Linked DNA regions of Homo sapiens. The protein of the gene in region 4 purifies or fractionates together with the protein of the main gene of each other region. This does not show direct contact. Each region holds a gene or a part of one and is shown on either strand. Other genes may lie near its edges. The genes, in order: HIP1R, TBCD, TMTC2 and CDHR2.

Region 1 (3,587 bases), on a different chromosome or scaffold from region 4:
CACTGCCTGCCCACACTGGCCTTCTCCCATGCCAGGGGTAACTGGCTCCTACCTGGTGGGCTCTGTGCTGAGAGGCTCAGGCTCAGCACATCTCTGCCAGGACACAGAGCCTGGTAGCCCTGTCCTGCTGCACAGTTGGGGCCACACCTTTGGACACCTGCCCTCTGCTCTCCATGTCAGATCCTGAGCAGGCTCTTCCCAGGCACAAGGGTCCAACTCTGAGCCCACCTCCCACCCACTGGAACTGAATACCCATCAGGCTCGCCCAGCTGCACTGGCCAGACCTGGGGACTCAGGGAGGCTGCCCAAACTGCCTCTAACTCCCAATTTTCCCTTAAGGAGGCATTTGCTTCTTGCCCTCTTATGGAGAGCACTGAGTCACCCATGAGTTGTTTTGAAGCTGCCACCCAGAACAATCAGTTCTCCAGCCTGGAAGCTGAGCCCTCTGAGATTTCCTGTCCAACAGCGGCCGGGTTCCCTCGCTAGGAAGTCTGACGTGACTCAGAGGCTTTCTAGAGCAGAAAATGGCAGGACGACCCAAACCTTTCTTCCAGCTGGGCTCTGCAGATGGCCCAAGGCTGGGGCAGGAACCTGGCAAGGTGGCTCCTGTGCACACCTCCTCACCCTCCCTGTCTTGGGGCTGATGGAGTGACACTCACTGGATGGAAGAGATGGCTGAACCTGTATCCTGGATGTACCCGCTGGGGCCTGCCATGCTTTGGAGGGGCCAGGAGGCCCCATTACCTATCCCTGGAGGTGCAGGGACCCCAGGAGGGGCAGGGGCATTTCTTTTTCTTTTTTTTTTTTTTAAGACGGAGACTCACTCTGTTGCCCAGGCTGGAGTGTAGCGGCATGATCTCCGCCGCCCAGGTTCAAGTGATTCTCCTGCCTCAGCCTCCCAAGTAGCTGGGAATACAGGCGTGCGCCACCACGCCTGGCTAATTTTTATATTTTTTTAGTAGAGACAGGGTTTCACCATGTTGGCCAGGCTGGTCTTGAACCCCTGACCTCAAGCAATCTGCCTGCCTCGGCCTCCCAAAATGCTGGGATTACAGATGTGAGCCACTGCGGCTGGCCAGGGTCATTTCATAGTGATCAGTTGGTCTGATCACTCATGTCTTCTTTTTTCTTCTCGTCCCATCTCTGGGGACTTAGCAATACACTCAGACCCCCGCATCCCCTCTTTACGGCTCACCTGATTCAGAAAGCTTCAGCTCACAATCCATGTAATCAAACATCTCCACAGTGAGCTGGAAGCTACGCAAGAGAAGTGGGGGAAGAAATGAAAAAGGGTGGGTGGACCCACCCACTCGTCCTGAGACGCCCCCTCCAGTGGGGACGGGGGCACCGCCGACACCATGGCTCTGGTGAGACAGCGTGCCTCTGCCAGGACGACAGTCCTTCAAGTACACCCCACCCTTTTAACTTCACCCTCTGTCCCTGGGAGCGTGAGCATCAACCAACAAAGCCACGGACTCATTCAACCCCACTGCCCCATGCGGACGCCTGGGCGTGAGACGCGGTAGGAAGGAATGGGGAAGCCGAGGGGAACTGGCTATGTAGCCATGCAGAGTGACTCACATGTTGTTGACATCGGTCCCAGCTGCCTTCTCCAGTACCTCATCTGTCACCTCCAGGCCCGCGGGAAACTGGGGATGCTGTGGAGAGAACCCCCACCCAGCGGCCACTGAACCAGGGCCCCCCCACACCTGGCGGCCACCGAACCAGGGCTCCCCCCCACCCAGCGGCCACTGAACCAGGGCCCCCCACACCCAGCGGCCACCGAACCAGGGCCCCCCAACCCAGCGGCCACCGAACCAGGGGGCCCCCCCACCCAGCGGCCACCGAACCAGGGCCCCCCCCACCCAGTGGCCACCGAACCAGGGCCCCCCCCACCCAGCGGCCACCGAACCAGGGCCCCCCCACCCAGCAGCCACCGAACCAGGGGGCCCCCCCACCCAGCGGCCACCGAACCAGGGCCCCCCCCACCCAGCGGCCACCGAACCAGGGCCCCCCCCACCCAGCGGCCACCGAACCAGGGCCCCCCCACCCAGCAGCCACCGAACCAGGGGGCCCCCCAACCCAGCGGCCACCGAACCAGGGCCCCCCCCACCCAGCGGCCACTGAACCAGGGCCCCCCCAACCCAGCGGCCACTGAACCAGGGGGCCCCACGCTGGACCCTGCTCTTGGCAGACCCAGGCTGTGGCCCACATAGGTGGCAGAGGGCAGTGGAGGGGTTGGGAGGAGGGGAGCACCCGGCCAGCACAGCAGAGACTGAGGAAGCCCAGCGCTCATGTCCACAGAAACGCCTGGGGAAGCCCGTGCCCACGTCCACGGAAATGCCTGAAGTGTTCTAGGAGCTTCGTGATGCCCTGGCTTCCCCGTCTCCCCTTTAGTCATAGTTGGGACAAGAAGGTGAATGGAAAGACTCATGGAGAGGACAGATCCCACCCTCGATGTCCCAACATGTGCCATAACGTCACAGTGGGAAAAGCCCACGGGTCCCTCAGCCCCATGACTCCCCCGAGGAAACCACCTTGAGGTGGAAGGAGATCTTGGTCAGCAGCAGCTTGGTGTAGACATTCACCAGCTGTCCGTAGCGGTCATGCAAATGTCCCTGTGTGAAGACAGACAGGGTGAGGGGCCACGGCTCGTGAACACGTCCAAGAGTCCTCAAGGACCTGGGCACGAGAGTGACCCACCACCGGGCACTTCTTCATTCAACAAACGTCTTCTCCTGGCCTCCACCAACCACCCTCTCTGTCTCTAGCTTTTTCCCTTAATCTTCCTCCTTGTCATTCCTGCCAAAGAAACTCTTGTGAGAAGAGAGCTCTTTGTCCAGGGCGGCAGGCCAGTTCTGAGCAGGGACGCTTTATTAAAGTGCTGGTGCTGGCAGGGAGGCACGTCCCGACGGGCGCCTGGACACATCCTCCCTGCTCCCTCCTCCAGCCCCACGGCCCCTGCGGCCGGGCCAGCTGGGCCTGCATCTGCAGGTGGCACCATGGGCAGTGTTTTCCTCGCTTCAAGGGAAGTGAGTCCGGGCAGTGGTTCTGGGTTGGATAACGCCCTGGTCAGGCCTCCCTGTGGGTACCCGGTCCAGGGCCTGCCCTGCTCCTATGTCCCTGCCCAGGCAGACGAGCACCCCACAGTGCTCCAGAGAGAACCAGGCCAAGGCCCTCTGCCCACCAGGGACATCTCTAACTCCTGAGGTCTTGCAGTGCATCCAGATTGCAGGCCCCCCAGGGCTCTCAGGCCTTACTGTGTGTGTGCTCAAAATGCAGACCTCCAGTCCTGATTCTTCAGCAGCAGGTCTGGGGGAGCCCAGGAACCTGCGCCCTGCCACAGGCTCTCTAACCACCGAGGTGCCCGGGCTGTGGTCTTGCCACATTTCCCAACTCGTGAGGACTAAAGGGCCCGGGTGACTTCGACGCTGGAGGGCCCACTGGTTATGCGTGTGGAGCGCCCTGGGCCAGGCCCTCAAAGGCAGGCAGCATCTCCCCGTGCTGCCCCTCCCACTGTCGCCCCTGGGAAAACCCAGCCACCCGCAGGGAACTGCCCACAGGGAGCCACCCTTCGCTCAGCCCCA
Region 2 (3,587 bases), on a different chromosome or scaffold from region 4:
CTGGAAGAGAGGAAACCTAGGAAGTGAAGAATCATAAGTCCTGCCTCTGAGCAAAAACATCCCCCTTAGCGTTCATCTGCTGGCCTTTCAGAGACTTACGACTTTAGGGAGGAACTGTTGGGACTCACCTCGCAATGGCCTTCAAGCCGTCTCTCCTGGACTCAGCAAAACTTACGTCCTCGGGGGAAGTGTGGGTAACTGCTCTTAAACCTGTGAGAACCTGGAAAGCAATAAAGAATCACAGAAGAACCATAAGCTATAACAAAGTGCACTCTTTAGGGAGGTGGCAATGTTGGCCCGGAGCCACAGACCCCACACCATGAGATAGGCAGCTCCTGGCACCACCTTCCTCACGGCCATCCATGGCCCCTGGTACAACCCAGGAAGGACACCCGGGGAGAGGTCACCTCCAGCCTCTCCACGGCCCCCAGTACAACCCAGGAAGGACACCCGGGGAGGAGTCACCTCCAGCCTCTCCACGGCCCCCGGTACAACCCAGGAAGGACACCCGGGGAGAGGTCACCTCCAGCCTCTCCACGGCCCCCAGTACAACCCAGGAAGGACACCCGGGGAGAGGTCACCTCCAGCCTCTCCACGGCCCCCAGTACAACCCAGGAAGGACACCCGGGGAGAGGTCACCTCCAGCCTCTCCACGGCCCCCAGTACAACCCAGGAAGGACACCCGGGGAGAGGTCACCTCCAGCCTCTCCACGGCCAGCCCCCACCCCAGGGTGTCACTGGGGGTCTGGCCACACCCTACCTGAGGTCCCCCCCTTTTGTCCTACGCTGAGACCTGGGGTATTGACAAAGGAAGCTGCTGGGTCCCGACAACCTCATCTGTCATATCTCCAAGTGATCCTGTTTCACATTTATCTGTGTTTCAACTGGATAAACCCCCACATGCGAGTTTTAGATGGCATGGCGGCTGCGAGGCCCACCCGCCACACAGGCAGGAGTCCGTCTGGAGCTGCAGATCCTGAAGTGCCAAGGCTGGATCCCATGGGGAGGGAAGGGCGTGGGGAACCCAGTGGCCAGGGCCTATTCCAGCTTCAGACGCCAGGTGGCCGGAGGGGAGACAAGCAGGAGTTCCCGGCAGGTTGGTCAGTGGGACCAGCACCACAGGAAAGCGTGAGAGAGCAGGTCACTGAGGCCAGCGTGGGGCTGACCTCTGGGAGGACGTGGAACCACCTCTGCCCCGACCTGGATGCAGGATGCACGGCCGCAACCAAAACAGGACCCGGCTCCACAACGCACAAAGGCAACTGTGTTCTCCTCACTCTCGGCAGCTGCTTCTACAAACAACACCTTCTCCTCCCTCCCAGAATTCAGCTTTTTCAAGTCTGTCCTCTGACAGCAAAGGGTTCGCCAGGGCCCTAAGGGGCCACAGACCTTGGGTGCCCTCTGCCCCCTTCCTCCTGGCCACAGGTGCCGGTTTCCAGGAACCCCCTCCCAGCTACAAGCACTGATGGGTTTATTAACGGCTGGGCCTACCTCATGCCCCAACACACGAGGCTCCCACACCCTCGCCCTAGGCCCCGTCCACTGCGCGTGGCCAGCCTCACCTGCTGGAGCCGGCCTTTCAGAAGGAAGCCTGGAAGGGCGCCCAAGGCCAACGAGAAGCCACAGCGAGTCATCTCCTCGGGGTTCCGAAGCTCAGCCAGGTACTGCGTGATCAGCTCCTCTGAAAGGAAGCAACGAGTGTGAAGAGAGGCCCTCTGCTGCCCATCGTGTACAGCCACACCCGACGTGTGCCCCAAACAGGAGCAAAGCCACAGTGAACAAAGGAGGAGCCGCCTGAGGTTCCCAAAGCAGACACGTTTCCAAAGTGGCCTACCTCAAAATAGGAATCAGAAAGAGAATTTTTTTTTTGAGAGAGTCTCATTCTGTCACCCAGGCTGGAGTGCCGTGGTGCAAGCTTAGCTCGCTGCAGCCTCAACCCCACACTCAGCCTCCCAAGTAGCTGGGATTACAGGTGTGTGCCACCATGCCAAGCTAATGCATGATTTTTATATACTTATAATAATTTTAAGTGGTGATTCACACACTTTTGACGTGATTAATAATGCATGTTCTATCATATGACATAAAGGAACACTGTGGGCCAACATATGTGCATGTGACACTTTAAAAATAAAAGTACGATTCATGAAGCAGATCCCTCGAACATGATGTGCGAGAAGCAAGCCTGAACTTCAGCACGGGGGTGCAGGATGTACAGTGAGGCGGCACAGCAGCTACGCACGGGACACGGCGTAAAGCCAGCCTAATGCTACTTTCATAAAGAAGGAAAAAACAGCAAAATGTATTAACGAGTGAAACACACAGCAGAAAAATGTCACGGTGCATACAAAAATTCTAAAAACACTGACCGAGTGCAGTGGCTCACACCTGTAATCCCAGAACTTTGGGAGGCTGAGGCAGGTGGATCACCTGAGGTCAGGAGTTCGATTCCAGCCTGGCCAATGCAGTAAAACCCCGTCTCTACTAAAAATACAAAAATTAGCCGGGTATGGTGGCAGGCACCTGTAGTCCCACCTACTCAGGAGGCTGAGGCACAAGAATTGCTTGAACTCAGGAGGCAGAGGTTGCAGTGAGCCGAATCACGCCACACCACTCCAGCCTGGGTGATGGAGCAAGAGGGTGCCGTCAACAGAGACGCGTCCCTGCTGAGCCACCTGTTCAGAGCTGATGCAACATCCTGGGCAGCTGCAGGACCTGCCCACAGCTCCTCGGCTGGGAACCTGAGACCCGAACAGTCCCACTCCAGCCATGATCGTGGTGGCTCTGCTCCACTGCACAACCGAGGCCTCCTCCGTGCCCAGACACTCCCCAGCAGCTTCCTGCTGGAAGCCCCTGGAGTCTTCAAGAAAAGGGCTCCCCACTCACCCTGAATTGCGGGATCTGCCTCCCCCGGCTCCTTCATGTAATATTCACTGCATAGAGCAGCCAGGGCCGAGACTGCTGCATCCTAAAACAAAGGCAGCACGGTGAGCGCACAGCAGCTCTGCTCGGAGAAGCCCCCGGCCAGGGACAGAGCAGGTCACTCTGAAGTCGGAGAAGCACCTGACCAGGGACACCGTGGTCACCCTGAGGTCAGAGCAGCCCCTGCCTGACCAGGGACCCAGCGGGTCGCCCTGAGGTTGGAGAAGCACCCGGCCAAGGACACAGCAGGTCACCCTTGAGGTCAGAGAAGGACCTGACCAGGGACACAGCGGGTCACCCTGAGATCTCGGCACAGCAATGACTTTCGAACCAAACCAAAAGAACCCCTAAGTCATGCTACTCCTTTCCAGCACGCCTGCTCACCATCATCTGTCAGATACACGCATCACTTTACTACCACTACAACTAAGAAACTGAATGGATAACCTGATTATTCCTTCCACAATGTCTGTCTTCTAATATGGAACAATAATAAAATGGAGCATATTTTTCTTTCCCAGAAATAGTTATGAAGAAAAAGGCATACACTATGCACCCAGAGTAACGGGGCAGGGCCTTCAGGCCAAGCCACGTCAGCCTCATTTAGAGAGACAGGGCTCCGGGGGCGCACTGGGAACAGGAGTTGGGGCCGGACAGCAGGAGAC
Region 3 (4,060 bases), on a different chromosome or scaffold from region 4:
AACTAATTTATCATCACACTCACACCATTCTTCCAAGTTACAAGGTCCAGTCCTAACACTTCTGATGACTCAAGAGCACAGAACAATTATACCTATAGAAAAATGCATATCCAAATTTAACCTTAATTTTTAAAGAATGGCTTCTTCTGATGTGTATTTTCTTAAGGATTAGACAGCAATGAACAAGGGCATACAATAGGAATACTTGATTCACCACCGTGTTCTATAACAAGTTGCATTATTATAATAAGTTTCTTTTTTTAAATAAACTCTATATTCTTGGTTTAAATGCTTACTATTCAAACTGCCCCCAAGAGCCAGTAACTGCCCACACTGACCCAAGGTGGTTTTAGTGAAAAGTCACCCATCAAGTTGCATTATTATAGTAAGTTTCTTTTTTTAAATAAACTCTATATTCTTGGTTTAAATGCTTACTATTCAAACCGCCCCCAACAGAGCCAGTAACTGCCCACACTGACCCAAGCTGGTTTTAGTGAAAAGTCACCCATCTTTGGAAACAAGGGCTTTTTCCACGAATATGCTAGAAATAGCAGGTGCACCATTACACAAAATTGGAGAGAACAGAAATTTACCTCACTCCTACAGACCATTTCTCAGAGCATGCTGTGTAGTTGCTAAAATCAGTATGCTGCGTAAAAGTTAAGAAAAAATGTATGTCTAACAGTGGTTCCCTATCAACTAGCCTCTGGTAGGCACTACATAAAATGCATTAAGACGGGTTTGCTGGATGTTCTGGCACCTATTATCAGGTGATTTTTTAACAGAGATGTGAAGATGCTTTTAGCAGGAGAATGGGCACACCAGAGAATACAGAATGTGGCTAATTACGACGAGAAGAAGATTCTGCCTTCACCTCCCCTCACTGTCAACCACTTTGCGTAAGTGCTCTCACTGCCTCGCCCTAACCCTGGGGATCCATTCACTTTTCATAGCTCAGAGAGGCTGCTGAAAAGCTGTCAAAGTAAATCTGTGCTCACTTTTTGGATGGTTTAATTTCAATGGAGCATGAAACACCCCAGGACGGTTAATAAGTTTAGCCAGGCGTGCTGTTATCCCTAATATATTTTAATTATGCATCTGTTTTAATTGTAATCAGATTAAGACACCGGAAGGACACAAATTGGAATTTTCCCTAATGGATATAGGGGCTTTTCATCACTTTCTGAACACTAATAACGTTTAAAAGATAGGAAGAGACACCAACACAACGGTGACATTTTCCAGAAATCGATGCAGTTTCTTTGACAACACAGTTCAGGTCTCATTAGCCACCCAAACTAACCTAAGTGCAGAAGACAACTTCAGTCTCTAGGGGCGTCTTCTTCTCCAATTAGTACAAAAGAACCACTAACATCTAATGTACAACTCCCAAACAGAAATGAGAAAGCCGAGGCTTTTATAAAGTGCTGCCCAATGGATTGGTGAAGGAGGCTAGGGCGGCGGGAGAGACCATCAGCAGCATTATTTTGGCTCAAAGTAAAAGTCTATACACGTTAAAAGGGAAAGTTAAAGCAGAGAACGATCTCCCTTTTCACAATTTTGGCAACTATCAAACGTGTGTTTTAACTTCGGGAAATAAAAGTGTCCCATCAATAAAAGGAAACGGGACAGGGAGGATCTATCAGGGATCGAGGAGAGGCTTCCTCCCAACCAGACGTAAAATCACTTAATGTGCTTTGTTGCATCAAGGAATACCTAAGACTTTAATTTAATACGTTCATTAAACAGTTTCCCAAATTGCCGGGATTTCCGCTAAGAAACTCAAGCGTCTGCCAACAGCCGAGAAGCAAGGGAGAGAACCTGCTGCAAACTAGGAGCGGAAACTCCCTCGGCCCGCCCAGCGCGCCTCACGTCCCCGGTGTTTGATTTAGGTGTTAATGTTTACGTGTCGCCTAAACCATCAGGTGCTGAACCAGTTCCTCCAAGACGCACTTTGAGCCTTAAAGAGGGAAGCTTCAGAGCCACTGCGGAGTGTGCCCCCTGCAGCCCGTCGCCCCCTCCTCTCGGCCCCTTACCTGTCATCATAGCAGAAATCCGCACTCAGGGTGTTGAGATACAAGGCGAGCCCCAGAGCGCTGCTCACCAACTCTGCAATCATCTCTCCACCGCCTTCCCTCCGGCTCGGCTCCCAGCGCGAGGGCAGCAGCGGCAACAAAAAACAGAAGCATCAATCTCCACCTTCCGCCGCCTTCTCCTCCCAGCTTCACTTTTCCCTCGCTTCCCCACCCTCCCTCCCTCGGGTCCTTCCAATCCACGACTCCTCTCCTCCTCCTCGCGCCCGTCTCCGCAGCTCCTGCGTCCTCCCCGGGTGCGGGCTCACACCACACTCCCCATGCCCGGCGCCCGCAAGCGGTGAGCGGCGTTTGGGCTCCGCGTCCCCCGGCGGAAGCGCAGGGCTGGTCTTTCGCGCGGGTCGCGATCCCCACCCTAACCCATGGCAGTTTGGGGCGTCCTAGGTGAGGAGTGGGACTCGGAGGAGGTGGAAGGGTGCGGGATGGGGGCAGAGGGACCGGACCAAGCCGGGCTCTGGGACCAGCTGGAGGAAGAGAGAGAAAGAGGCGCGGGTGGGAGGGACAAGGCGAACCGCCTCCCCTCGCCGCCTCCCGGGCGCACTGCTCCGGTGTCGCTCGGGCGGACTCCGGCCGCCAAGGCAGCTGCTGCACATTCAATGTTTATTAGCTCCCTCCCAGCCCCAGCCCCAGCCCCAGCCCCAGCTCCCTTCTCCAGTGAAGTGAGAAGCGGTGGCTGGAGACTCCAGAAGCTCCCGCGTGGGGTTCTCGACGCGGCCCCCCGCGCCTGCGTGACCAACCCTCCATCCCGGCTTGGCCCAGCCCCTTTCTCCACCCAGATCCTCCCGGAAGGCTCCTCCTACCCTGCCCCTCGGGCTGGAGGCTCCTCCCACCCTCCCCGGCCTGGAGGCTCCTCCTACCAGCCTCCCGTCCTCTTGTTTCTTTCACCTTCGATTTCACTCTGGAAAGCCCCCGGGACCCAAGGGCGACGGCTGGAAGACAGCCCAAAGGAGTAGATACAGTGCACCCTGGGAGGGGAAGCTGGGAGAAAGGAGGTCGAGGAGGAGGTGGTCGGTCGCCCCGCTGCTGCCTGGCAGCGCCTGGCACGGCTGAATCTCAGCCACAGCGCTGTGTGTGCCAAGAGCTGCCAGGCGTAAGTCCGGTCAGCTGGAGAGACTTCTGAGACCGGGAGAGGAAGAACAGGTTTGGCGACTGCTGCAGCTTCGGTTGTCACAAACTCACTGGCGATCTCTCACGCACACTGTGTGTGAGACTAAATGGGGGGGAGGAGGTAGTATTGGAGAGCTTGGAGGCAACTTAGGAAGGAGAGATTTCAGCTCTTAGCCTACGGTTGGCCACAATGTCAGTGGAAAGACGTGTAGGGAGAGAAACGTTTCCTCCTTCAGTAAGGTTAAAAAGAAAGGACCCCAAAAAGGGAAAGAAAGACACACACACACCCCGCAGCAACTGCCCGGGGACCCCTTCGTGGTTTCAGAGGGACTGTCGGGTTGACCCTGAGAACACAGGAGAGAAACCTCTAGTGCAAGCCGGTACAGCATTATACTTAAACCTAGTAAGGCAGTAAGCTAATGCCCTTTCCTTTCCGCTCGGAGGCAGGACTGGATGGAAAGCATCCAACATGGTGAAATATGGTGTAGAATGGTCTGTGTAGAACAAGCTCTGGGTACTAAAGTTGCAAGACCAAAGAGGACCCAGGGCTGCCTGACACGCCTCCTCCCGGCTTGTTGGCTTTCTGGCCAGGAGAGTAGCTCCGGTGCACCGCGATGTACACTACTGCAGCGCCCCCTGCTGCATAGTAACCACAAGGTGTGGAAGACAGGTCTGTTTTGCATGCGGGCCGACTGGTTCCAACCAAGAGCAGCACCTAACCAGCAAGCTCTCCGAAACTGTGGCAAGAAATTGAGCCCCCTGGGTGTCTAGCAGTGGCCTGGAAAGAAAATACCGTGGTCTGGGCTTCTGTAGAACAAAGCTACATATTTCCCTGATTTCACAAGGAAATCTGAGAAATC
Region 4 (3,587 bases):
CATGTTACTTCCTTGAGTGCACTGAGGAATCAAGTCTCATGCCCTTTCACAGATAAGGAAACTGAGGCCCGTGGAGGGGAGGTGACTCACCCAAGATCTCGCACTGGGTCACTGGGGAGTGAATGCATGTATACCTGTGCCTAAGCCCCAGCTCCTTCTACCCCTACCCCCCGACGTCTTGGGTGGTGGGAGAGGGTGAAGGTTGGAGACACGGGGGCAATGGGAGCCGCACCTCTTCCGCACACACACGAAGGCCATGGTCATGATCACAAGGACCAGCAGCAAAGCCACTCCCAATCCTATGATGACACTGATGAGCTGTTTCGACAGGTCTGACTCCTGGCTCTCCTGGGAGCCCTGGAGAAAGATGAGTGTGAGGGAAGCACACTCGTCTTCAGCAGCCCCACCTGCTGCCCCGCCCTGCCCGCACTCACCAGCACCACCAGCCCCAGCTGCAGCAGCTGCGTCAGCGAGTCCTGATCATTCCGGATCATCCTGGCCACAGAACTCCACTTAGGCCCGAGGGACCTTGGCACACCCCAGGCTTCCTGCTCACCCTCACACCTGCCCCAAGGGCAGCCCCACTCACACACTCAGCTCATCAAGGGTCAGGGCTGACCCATTGGGGAAGACAAAGTAGGCATCGAGGTAGGAGTGAGGTCGGGCCCTGGAGCGGGACAGAGTTGAAGAGTCAGGAGCCTGGATCACCCAGCAGGCCCCTCCTGCTACCGCTTCTCCCCCTCAACCCCACCCCCAGGCCTCTGGGCACTCACCGAGCTGCAGAATCTATGTCCTGAATGTCCACAATGTATACTGTAGTCCTGGTTGCCTGGGTAAGAGCCCTGCAAAGAAGGCAGATGTCACAGAGGCCTGGGGTCTTAGCCTGGGCCTGTGGCCAGGGCTGTGCCAGTGGGATTAAGAATTGTATGAGTGAGAAAGGGCACCTCCTCTGGACAGCTCTGTTGGCTGAGTAGGTAGCATCTCTGTGAAAATTACAAAAGGAAATCCCTTCCTCTGGGGCTGGGTGAATAGCTTAGCAAGCAGAGTGCCCTTGTGCAACACACAGCCTTCACAACTGTACACGGCAGCCTTGTTCCAAGGCTTCCCTCTGCCCTTGGCTGGGTATGGGCTTCTGGGGACATGCAAGAACGTCGTGCAGGTGAAAGTACAGGGTTGAAGACAGGGACAAGGTCAAATGTGGGTCAGGAACAGGATTGAGAGACATCCCATCCAGGTTTTGTCGGGGACCAGGCTCCTACACCCTGTTCTTCCTACCCCTCCCTCCGGGGCTCCCCAGACCTACGCATTAATCGCCTGTCTGTTGGCGCCCACCTCCTCCTTCGGTGTGGAGAACTGCAGCCGCGAGCGGTAACTCTGGTCCACGGTGAAGAGCTGGGAAGGGGGTGTGCAGGAGATGAGGCACCAGGGACCCTGGGGGCTGGCAGAGGGCGTTGGGGGCTGGAGGTGGGACCAGCACTCACATTCAGGGTGGTGGTGGCTTCCAGGAAAGGACCCAAGGAAGGTCTGTCCCTGGCCTGGACTGTCACTTGGTAGGTGCCTTGGAGAGTGGAGTCGAGGCTGGTCACCGGCCTGCGGAAGGCGGGAGGCGCAGGTCAGTCTTGGAACCCAAGCTGAATCCTCAGGACCCTTGTAACCTCCAGGATGGGGGACTTGCTGCCTGAAAGCTCCTATCGGGCCCCTCCCCGCAACCTCCCTCCCGGGGCCGCCCGCAGTTACTGAATGCTCCCAGCGAACACGTCGGCCTCGGAGGAGGTGAAGATCGAGAAGACACCCTGGAAAGGGATGGTGGCCCCGTCCTTAGAGATGAAGTCTACTCGGAGGATGGAGAACAGGATGACGCCATTGTTCCCTGAATCATCGTCTCTGGCCTGGGAGCAAGAGTGGACAATATCTGGGGGCCCAGCCAGGCCAGGCATCCCTCCACCCCAGCAGGGATCAGAGGCAAGGGTGGCCTGGGAGGCTGGCCCTCACCGTCTCTATCCGCCATCCCCACGCTGCCCCGAATAAGCAAATGGTTTCAAAAAACAGTGTGTCTGCTCTGCAAATCCAGATTTGGACAAGAACCTGCCCCTGTTCCCCAACTCCAAACAGATCACTGCCCTAAGTCCCTCACATGTGGAAATCCTGCCCTGCTCCCCCTACACCCCTCCACTGCCATACTCTCTCTCTCTCTCACACACACACACTCACACACACAGTCTCTCTCACATACACACCCTCTCACACACACACACTCTCACACACTGTCCCACTCACACTCAGTCTCACCCTAACACACACTTACACACATATGCACACACACTCATACACACCCTCACACACACTCTCACACACTGTCCCACTCACACATACACTCACTCACCCTAACACACTCACACACATGCACACACTCATACACACCCTCACACACTTATCCTCTCACACTCACATACACTCACACACCCTCTCACACTCACACACTTATCCTGACACACACACTCACACCCTCACTCTCTCATGCACTCACCACACACTCAATTCACACACACTCACACAAATACACTCAATTCACACACATTCACACACTTGCACAGTCACACACATACACACCCACAATCACCTACATACCCACACACTGTCACACACATTCACATACACTCACTCACCCTTATACACACCCTCAGGCACACACATTCACACTTAGACACACACACACTGGCGTGCACACACACAGCGATGCTCAGATTTCCTAAGCACCTCCCCTGGGATCCCTCATTTCCGTGCGGGGAGTACCAATTCCCCTAGTAGACCATGAAGCTGGTTGGGGAGGGGACACAAGCATTTTTATTCATTCTAGTGCCTTTTAGAGAAAAATTTAACCAGCACACAGAGCTTCGAGTTCACCAACGTTACTGTTAAGGATAGGCCAACACCAGTGCTTAGGTCTTAAAAAGGAATCTATTTAAAGAAAATTGCCGTGGCTAAACTCTTGACATTAGAACCAAATTGGCAGAAGATTGGGAAGCTGTCTTAAGACTTGAAAGTCACACAGTCACTGTCTCTAGCATGAACGTCAACCTAGAGAGGGAGAATTACTATCCCCATTTTACAAGAGGAAGCTGAGGCTCCGAGAGACCCTGTCCTTACACTCGGCTCTAAGTGGGGAAGGCCAGCCCTGTCCATCTCTTGTACCCATGTCCTTTCCAAAGCATAGGGAATGGCACCCACATGCCACCTTCTGGGAACTGCTAGCTTCTTGTTGAACAGGGAAACGGAGTCCCAGAGAGGGTAGGCAGCTCTCCAGGTCAGTAAGAAGCCCAGCCAGGCCCAGCCCTCGGTGGTGTGGGAAGCCTCATCCCCACACGGCATGGCCACCACCCCTAATAAACTTGCCACATCCAACACCATAAACAGCTGAAAGCCTTTTTATGACTTGGCTCCAATAATTTATTTATTTATTTATTTTTTTTTGAGGCAGAGTTTCACTCTTGTCGCCCAGGCTGGAGTGCAATGGCGTGATCTCGACTCACCGCAACCTCCGCCTCTCGAGTTCAAGTGACTCTCCTGCCTCAGCCTCCCAAGTAGCT

What was found.
Region 1: the proteins of CDHR2 (region 4) and HIP1R purify together in Homo sapiens (affinity purification with mass spectrometry; one large-scale study listed by BioGRID and IntAct). This does not show direct contact.
Region 2: the proteins of CDHR2 (region 4) and TBCD purify together in Homo sapiens (affinity purification with mass spectrometry; one large-scale study listed by BioGRID and IntAct). This does not show direct contact.
Region 3: the proteins of CDHR2 (region 4) and TMTC2 purify together in Homo sapiens (affinity purification with mass spectrometry; one large-scale study listed by BioGRID and IntAct). This does not show direct contact.

The regions. Positions count from the first base shown.
Region 1 is NC_000012.12:122,848,906-122,852,492, reverse strand, and holds part of HIP1R (huntingtin-interacting protein 1-related protein), read right to left. Parts: intron 2,619-3,587; coding exon 2,538-2,618; intron 1,659-2,537; coding exon 1,582-1,658; intron 1,258-1,581; coding exon 1,196-1,257; intron 1-1,195. UniProt on the Homo sapiens protein: Component of clathrin-coated pits and vesicles, that may link the endocytic machinery to the actin cytoskeleton. Binds 3-phosphoinositides (via ENTH domain).
Region 2 is NC_000017.11:82,923,033-82,926,619, reverse strand, and holds part of TBCD (tubulin-specific chaperone D), read right to left. Parts: intron 2,969-3,587; coding exon 2,887-2,968; intron 1,682-2,886; coding exon 1,563-1,681; intron 221-1,562; coding exon 129-220; intron 1-128.
Region 3 is NC_000012.12:82,685,646-82,689,705, reverse strand, and holds the start of TMTC2 (protein O-mannosyl-transferase TMTC2 isoform 1 precursor), read right to left. Parts: upstream 2,801-4,060; 5' UTR 2,120-2,800; coding exon 2,037-2,119; intron 1-2,036. UniProt on the Homo sapiens protein: Transfers mannosyl residues to the hydroxyl group of serine or threonine residues.
Region 4 is NC_000005.10:176,587,333-176,590,919, reverse strand, and holds part of CDHR2 (cadherin-related family member 2 precursor), read right to left. Parts: intron 1,890-3,587; coding exon 1,738-1,889; intron 1,591-1,737; coding exon 1,482-1,590; intron 1,393-1,481; coding exon 1,304-1,392; intron 843-1,303; coding exon 774-842; intron 668-773; coding exon 590-667; intron 496-589; coding exon 435-495; intron 358-434; coding exon 233-357; intron 1-232. UniProt on the Homo sapiens protein: Intermicrovillar adhesion molecule that forms, via its extracellular domain, calcium-dependent heterophilic complexes with CDHR5 on adjacent microvilli. Thereby, controls the packing of microvilli at the apical membrane of epithelial cells.